Linked DNA regions of Homo sapiens. The protein of the gene in region 1 interacts with the protein of each later gene in a pairwise test. Each region holds a gene or a part of one and is shown in the gene's direction. Other genes may lie near its edges. The genes, in order: MPZL1 and DOK7.

What was found.
Region 2: the proteins of MPZL1 (region 1) and DOK7 interact in a two-hybrid assay, tested with the Homo sapiens proteins (one large-scale study listed by BioGRID).

What each region holds. Positions count from the first base shown.
Region 1 is NC_000001.11:167,728,381-167,732,182, forward strand, and holds part of MPZL1 (myelin protein zero-like protein 1 isoform a precursor), read left to right. Parts: intron 1-3,802. UniProt on the Homo sapiens protein: Cell surface receptor, which is involved in signal transduction processes. Recruits PTPN11/SHP-2 to the cell membrane and is a putative substrate of PTPN11/SHP-2.
Region 2 is NC_000004.12:3,461,845-3,466,386, forward strand, and holds the start of DOK7 (protein Dok-7), read left to right. Parts: upstream 1-1,461; 5' UTR 1,462-1,531; coding exon 1,532-1,585; intron 1,586-1,661; coding exon 1,662-1,707; intron 1,708-4,542. UniProt on the Homo sapiens protein: Probable muscle-intrinsic activator of MUSK that plays an essential role in neuromuscular synaptogenesis. Acts in aneural activation of MUSK and subsequent acetylcholine receptor (AchR) clustering in myotubes. Induces autophosphorylation of MUSK.

The sequences.
Region 1 (3,802 bases):
TATTTTTAGTAGAGATGGGGTTTCACCATATTGGCCAGGCTGGTCTCGAACTCCTGACCTCAGGTGATCCACCCGCCTCGGCCTCCCAAAATGCTAGGATTATAGGCATGAGCCACCGTGCCCAACCTATTCATTGTCTTTTTCAATGCATGTGGCTACTGTAATTTTTTATTCACTTAACAATTTTTTCTTGATCCCATTAGGCCTTTATCCAAGATGATTTCATTGATAAATCCTCCTTCAGTAGGTTTCTTCTTCTAAACTCAGAGTCTCTAGAAACTGTGATACCTTATGATACCTCTGATCTTATTGTTAGAACATAGAGCTTGAGTAATTTTGTAGCAACAGTGATACACTGAATCCAGTACTTAGGTTTAATTGATTGGAGTTAGAAATGCAGTATGTCTTTGCCTATCCTGTGTATTGCAGATAAGATTGCCCCATAGAATGAAATCTATGACTTAAGTTTTGTTAGGAGCATGCTGCAACCAACTGAACAGACCTTGATGAACTTGCAATGAACATTTTTTCATACTGGGACCCTGATATTCTACTTTAGGATCTGGGGAGTTTATTACGTGCATTTTAAAAGATGCTGTTATCGGCCGGGCATGGTGACTCATGCCTGTAATCCCAGCACTTTGAGAGGCTGAGGCGGGTGGATTGCCTGAGCTAAGGAGTACAAGACCAGCCTGGACAACATGATAAAACCCCCATCTTTACTGAAAATAAAAAAAAAATTAGCTGGGGGTGGTGGCGCACACCTATAATCCCAGCCACTTGGGAGGCTGAGGCATGAGAATCGCTTGAGCCTGGGAGGCAGAGGTTGCAGTGAGCTGAGATCGTGTCATCGCACTCCAGCCTGGGTGATAGAGTGAGACACCCTGTCTCAAAAGAAAAAAAAAAAAAGATGCTGTTATTAAAATTAAGAAATGTGTTCTTTTCTCTCCAAACATTAAGTTTACAATGTGGAGTTATATACATTTAACATAATCATGTGCTTCTTCCAGATAACACTTGGTAAACTTGAAAAGATGAAAAGTTATAAGGTGTTATATTGTCAGCTTAGCTTCAATGAGAACCTAGTGACCCTGTGGCCAGACAGTGTCTAATAGTTATTCTCTAGTCAAGTCCAGGTTATCATTGCTATATACTTTCTTCCAAAGGGTGTTGCTGAGAATTAGGAAGCATAGATAGAGGACTCAGGTTCCTAAGAGAAATGTGGTAAAATGCAAATATTTGAAATCTCCTAGATGTCTGAAAAGAGAAGAGAAAGAGAGTGAGTGAGCAGTTAGGGAGATGTTTTAACTTCTCCCTCTCCCTTTTCTGTTTCTTAGCCCTTAGAAGTTAGGGCATAGAACTAGGTTCATGTTATATCTTCTGCTCTGCTCTCATTTATTGAGTGCTTACTATGTGCCACGCCTTTGCTAAACGATTTACTTATATACTCCTCACAGCTCTGTGCAATAATTATTTTTATTAATTTTATAGATAAGAAGAGTAAGTTTCAGAGAGATTGTGTAACTTAAGGGTCTTAAGATCACACAGCTAATACATGGTAGAGTTGAGACTCAATTTCCAAAGCACATGTTTGCAACCACCCTGCTGTATTATAGAATTTTTTCTTCAAAGTCTCTAAACATTTTGGGGAAGATTCTGGAATGTCTTAAGTGTTTACAGAGTGGCTTTTTAGCTGTCCTGGGGCATCCAGATTTCTTCTTTGGGGTGATGTTTGTGCCAAGATCCCTCATGCCTTGATGCTGCTGACTCTGTTAAAGAGGAATAAAGCTGCCGTGTTGAAGCCATCCTCACCAATCATGCAGAATCTGTTTGTGCCACCCAATACTCTAAATGCTCCTCAGGGATTTTTAATGATGTTCTTTTTTTTTTCTTTTTCTTTCTTTCTTTTCTTTTTTGAGGCAGAGTCTCTTGATATGGCCCAGGCTGGAGTGCAGTGGCACGATCTCCACTCAGCGCAGTCTCCACCTCCCTGGTTCAAGTGATTCTCCCACCTCAGCCTTCCTAATAGCTGGGATTACAGGTGCCTGCCACCACACCTGGCTAATTTTTGTGTTTTTAGTAGAGACAGGGTTTCACCATGTTGGCCAGGCTGGTCTTGAACTCCTGACTTCAGGTGATCCGCCTGCCACAGCCTCCCAAAGAGTTGGGATTACAGGTATGAGCCACCATGTCAGCTGATGTGGTTCTTGTAGGTTCTTCTCACTCATACCTCTCCCGCTATCAAGAGCACAAGCATGAATCCATTATACTGAGTGATACCATACTGGGCTCAGAATGGTTCCTTGCCCCTCATTACACATTACATGTGGAAGAAGCCACTAAGCCTTGACTTTCTTCCTTTGAGATGAGTTCTTCTCTGGAGGCTGTGCAGGTCCTTTTGCCATTAGACTCCTGGCATGCTTGCCTTACAGAATGTCCAAACAGGCCCAGGCATCCAAACCAAAGTCTCCTCCCTTGTACCTCTTCTTGGCTCCTCTGCCCCATTGACAGAGGTTCTGTAGCCATGTTGTCTGCCACAAGTTGGAGGTCTAGCACTTGTCTGTTAACTCTTGGGAACTTTGAGTCTTGATCATTTTCAGCTATTAGGAATTTAATTCTTTTTTTTTCTTCAGTGACTGCAAATTTAGAAGAACTGCAGTGAGGCTTGCTGAACCTTGCACACTAATGAAATTGGTGAATGGATTAATAATGAACAGAGGTGATGCTAATTTGTAATCAGGTTGAATAATATGGATTTAAGACCAGAAAATGGGCCGGGTGCCGTGGCTCGCGCCTGTAATCCCAGCACTTTGGGAGGCTGAGGTGGACGGATCATTTGAGGTCAGGAGTTTGAAGCCAGCCTGGCCAACATGATGAAACCCCATCTCTACTAATAATGGAAAAAATTAGTTGGATATGGTGGCACACACCTGTTATCCCAGCTATTCGGGAAGGCTGAGGCACGAGAATCGCTTGAACCTGGGGGACAGAGGTTGCAGTAAGCCGAGATTGTGCTACTGCACTTTTGCCTGGGCGACAGAGTAAAACTGTGTCTTTTTTTTTTTTTTTTTTTTGAGACGGAGTCTTGCTCTGTCGCCCAGGCTGGAGTGCAGTGGCGCGATCTCGGCTCACTGCAAGCTTTGCTTCCCAGGTTCATGCCATTCTCCTGCCTCAGCCTCCAAAGTAGCTGGGACTACAGGCAGCCGCCACCACACCCGGCTAATTTTTTGTATTTTTTCAGTAGAGACGGTGTTTCACCATGTTAGCCAGGATGGTCTCGATTTCCTGACCTCGTGATTCCCTCGCCTTGGCCTCCCAAACTGCTGGGATTACAGGCGTGAGCCACCGCACCCAGCCTAAAACTGTGTCTCAAAAAAAAAAAAGGGGGATCAGAAAATGCTAAGGAGGCAGGAGGATCACTTGAGGCCAGGAGTTCAAGACTGGCTGGGGCAAAATAGCAAGACCCCATCTCTACAAAGTAAAAATAAACCAAAAAACAAGTTATAGGTCCACAGTTTTTTTATCTGTAACTGCAAAGCCACAAATACTTTGAAAATTAAGTTTTTTCCTAAGTTTGATACAAATTCTTTGGCTGCAAAATTCAACCTGAAGTAGTAAGATACTGTTTACAACTGTGATCCTATTTGGTATGACTAATTGTATTTTTCACCGCAGAGATATTAATGTGTTTGATTGTGGGATGCTGCCCTGTACTCTCTAGGGACTACTACATAATATATAGTATAGGTATTGTATTAATTTTTTAAAATCTGAAAAATTCTATATTCTGAAATACACCTGG
Region 2 (4,542 bases), on another chromosome or scaffold:
ATGGGGCTCTGTGACCCAGCAACTGTTCTGCGGAAGGCGGCTGGTGGCTGCACAGGTGACTGCGGGGGTGGGTGGGGGATGCAAAATTCTGCTTCCTGGGCCTGGTGTCCCCCGCCTTGCATGAGGCCCTGACAAGACATCACCGAAGCACCAAAGCCAACCCTTGTGGCCCACCGGAGACCTGTCTCTTGGATCACAGGGGCAGTGGGGAGGGGCGCCCAGGGCTCCCGATGCCTCTGAGCCCTGCTCTGAGGTCAGCCGATGTGGCTCAGTCCTGGCTGTGAGGCCTCACGCTGCCCTGATTCCATTTGCTCCTCAGTGCGAGGCAGACAGAGCCCAGCCTAGGGTCTGGATGGGATGAAATGAAGACGTCTCCTCCCTAACGGGACACTGTCTACCCCTTCCTTCTTCTCCCCCGAGAACCGTCAGCCCCGTGAGGATGGGGTCTAGGGTAGGGCATGTGGACGGAGCTTTGCTGTTTGTCCAGGTGCTTATCTTCTAGGGTGCCATCGCCCCTCCCCACTGCTGTTCCCGTATCTGCTGGGTGTCCCCAACCCCAGGGTGGTGGAGGCCGTCTCTCGGATGGGGCTGACACCCAAGGCACGGACCTGCCAGGTCCCCCAAAGCACATGGCCTCTCTGCAGAAGAACCTGGATGTGACATCTAATGCCCAGGCCAGAGCTTGGGGACAGCTGGACTGGAGCCACAGGGTCAAGGAGGGGGAGTCCAGAAGCGCAAAGTCCACCCAGCTGGGAGGGCTGCTGGCAGGTCCTTTACAAAGCAGGCAGCTCCTCTGCCCATCGGAGCCGGCTGGCCTAACCAGGGCCTGCTCTTGCCTGGGATGGGGGCAGAAGAGGTGGAGACCTGGGGCCCTGAGGCGGCACTGTGGGTCCTGGACCCGCCCACCTGCACTGGGGTCCCTGCAGGCTTTTAATGGGAACAGAAATGGAGGAAGAGACAGAGGCTGCCAGGGGCTCCCCGACCCCTACTGCCTGCCTGGGGAGGGGTCACCTCAGTGTGGGGGAAGCCTGGGGATGTGAGAGCATCCTAGGCCTGGGCTGCCTGTGGCCAGTCTGTTGTCCGGGTGTCTAGTGACCCCTGGGGTAGGGGCAGATGCCAGTCTGGGAAGCCGGATTGTTTGAAGACCAACTTTAAAGTTGGGAGCAGTGCCCAGAGCGGGGCCGATGTCTGCTAGGTGGTTGTCTCTGCTTTTTGAAAAAGAAGTCCCCGCCCGACCCCCGCCCCGCCAGGCGCTGGTCTGAGCGTCTGAGCCCAGATGGTGCGCTTGCTCCAGAGGGCGGGCGGCTCCAGTGGCCGCCGCGGGACGGTGGGGCCAGAGGGGCCCGTGGGGGTGGGGGAGCCGCCCGCAGGAGAAGGAGCCCCGCCCGCGCCGGCCCTGGAGTCGCCGGTGTCGCCGCCCTGCCCGCGGGCCCGCCCTCCTGGCCCAGCCCAGGGCCCTGCGAGCTATTTTGAAAGTGACCCTGGGCTGGGGCGCCGGGGCGAGCGCGGCGGCGCGGAACCATGACAGAAGATGACCGAGGCGGCGCTGGTGGAGGGCCAGGTCAAGCTGCGGGACGGCAAGAAGGTCGGGGCGCGTCGGGGGCGCGGGGGGGGGGGGCGCGGGCGCGGGCGGCGGCTCACGCTCCCCCCTGTCCCCGCAGTGGAAGAGTAGGTGGCTGGTGCTGCGGAAGCCGTCGCCCGTGGCAGGTGAGCGGGGCGGGCGGGGGACGGGGGGCGCGGGGGTAGCGACACGGGTTACCGAGGCCCGGGGCAGTAATGCCAGCTTGCCCAAAATCGCCGCCGCTGTCACCCCGCCGGGAAACCCGAGAGCCCCGTGCGGACCCGGACCCCCCGGCGCCCCTGGGAGCGCAGGTGGGGGCCCTGGACGGAAGAACCCTCTTTCCAGCAGGGCAGACTGAGGCCCGAGGGGCTGCCTGGTGGCCCTGTAGGCGGAGGGGACGCAGGCCCTGAGCCCCCCAGCAGAGCAGCAAGGGGCCCCCCAGAAGCAAAGCCCCACATACCTGAGGGTTGAGCTGTGCTTGTGGAAACGCTCAGAGCAGGGCCCCCGAACCCAGCCTCCAGGGGTGCTGCGTGGGTTAGCGCTGACCCTGGACCCCTCCCAGGCAGACGAGAGGCTGGGCTGCGGTAGGGCAGGGCAGAGTGACTGCCACATTGCTGGGGGAACAGTCCTCTGGGAGGAGGCAGGGGTCCCCCCCCAGTCCCCGCCCTGAGCCAGCACCCCAGCTTGGGGAGGGTCAGCATGGAGCCCCCAGGTCTGGCAGCCCAGGCCGCCTGCAGCGCTGGGCCTGTAGGGAGGGCTGAGCCGGGCCTGCAGCTGCTCCAGAGGACAGGTGCGGCAGAGCCGGCCAGGCCCGGGTCTGGGTGGGATGCTCGGCCTGTGTGCATGGGGGGCTGTACGCCAGGGGGCTGCCAGAGCACCCTCCAGGACGGGTGTCTGTGACTCCCAGGGAGGGTGTGGGGCAGGGATCCCTCCTGCGTCCCCTCTGCAGGGCCTCAGGTGGTCCTGGAGGAAAGCACTTCCTGCCTGCCTCCGCCTCCCCTTGCAGGGCCTGGACTGCACGCTGGTCACTTCTCCACTCAGCCCTCCGTGCCCAGACCTCCTGCCTGGAGCTGTGGGGGCACCGACAGAGCCTGGGAGGGCGTCTTTGTCCTCCGGGGCTGCAGGGGACCTGGTATAGGAAGGGATGGGGTCTGGGCAGAGTGAGAGGCCCTGCCAGGCTGGGGCGGATGACAGGCTTTAGTCAGCTGTGGCTGGGTCGGGGCCGTGGTGGGGCAGGTGATGCTTGGTGGATGGTGCTGGGCTGGAGCCGGTGCAGACCCTCCAGAGAGGCCGCATCCCAGGAAGGCACCCGGGACAGCAGCCCCCAAAGAGGAGTGTCGGGGGAGAAGTCTTTGTCCCTGTTGGAGGGATTTTCTTTCTGCATCAGACAGTCCCAGGAGGCAGGGCCTGCCAGCCTCAAGAGGGTGTGCTCCCCCGGCCGGTGAGTGCCTGAGTGGAGTGACAGGAGTTTGCAATGGGTCCCCCAGGTGGGACAATCTGTGAGTCTGTAGGTGAACATGGTGGCTCCCGAGCGTCTGCTGGGTTATCCCGTATCCTGCGCAGTTGAGATCTGCAGCCTTCTGGGGCTGGCGTGGGAGGTGATGTGGGGTAGTAGAAGGTGCCATGCCCCCTCTGGGTGGATGTTCATTCCAAGCCTTGAGGCCAGGTGTCCCTAGCACCCACTGACTCACTGGCCTGGGACCCATTGCTTTGGACACCTGCTTTCTGTGTTGGTCACTCCAGCAGCCCAGGGTTGAAACTGACACCCTGTGGGGTTGCCCAGAGGTCGGTCAGATGAGGGGATGGGACAGAGCGGAGTTCTCACGCCCACCTCCCCACCCTGACCAGGCCAGCCTGGCACCTCCTCTCCGCTCAGAGGCCCTGATGCCTCTTCCCCTGGCCCCTCATAAGCCTCCCTAGATGCTGCCCCCTTTGCCTTCACCCAGCTGCCTTCCCGCTCAGCGCTGGAGACCACCTCCCTTGTGGATGGGCCCGGCGTGGAGGGAGCAGGCCCCAGCCCTGGAGGAGCAGACAGCACAGACCCTGCGCTCCTGGTGTGAGGGAGAGAGGAAGGGTCCCGTCTGCTTCCTTGTAAGACAGGCAGGGTTCTTTTTGTTACCAGTGGTGATTTCCTTCTGGGAAGGGCCCCGATGTGCACCTTTTCCACTGGCACCTTTCTCCTCCTTGCGTTTTTCTCAATCGTGAGCACGTCTTTCTGTTATGACAAGGTTTAGCGAATGAAAGGGAAACCCTTTTATCAAAGGGCTGCTCAGCCACAGCGCCTGGCATGGCCAGTGGACGTCGGGCCGTCTGCCTCGGTGTGGGACTGCAGGGTGCCCTGCAGTGGGACCACGTTCCTCAATGTCTCCACCGCGTCCTCACTGCGGAATGCGTGTCTGCGTCCCCTCTCTGGGCAGGGCCCCGGGGGAGGAGGGTGGTCTGTGTCCAGTTGTGGCCCAGGACTCACTGCTGGTGGCCCTGCATGCCAGCGGCGCCTGGCCCAGCCCCTCTCTTCTTCCTCCCAGGTGCGGGGGCTGGGGGTGGTGAGGAAAGTGTTCTTGACATCCTGTGGAGAGTGTGGCCCCAGGCCAGACACTTGAGGGGGCCTGCTTCCCACAGGGGCTGCCCCTGGGGGCTTCATCCAGCTCAGAAAAGCCACCGGGAGGGCCCGAGTCCTGGAGCTGGCAGGGTCTTGGAGTCACCATGGTGGGGGGAAGCTGAAACTCAGAAACCCGAGGGATCTGGCCCAAGACATGGACTGCTGGGCAGAGCCCAGTTCCCCCCAGCCAGCCCAAACCTTGCCCCCCACAGCTGGCTGGAAGTTCCGCGCCTGCCCCCGGGCTGATGGCTGGGCCCTTGCTTAGTCTCCCCTATCCTTGCTCTCGGTGGGACTGAGCCCGGCCTGCAGGAGGGACCCCACGGAGACGGCGCAGGAGCCGGGAGCCCCCTGGCAGGTGCCCCGTGAGCCCCGGAGCTGCCCC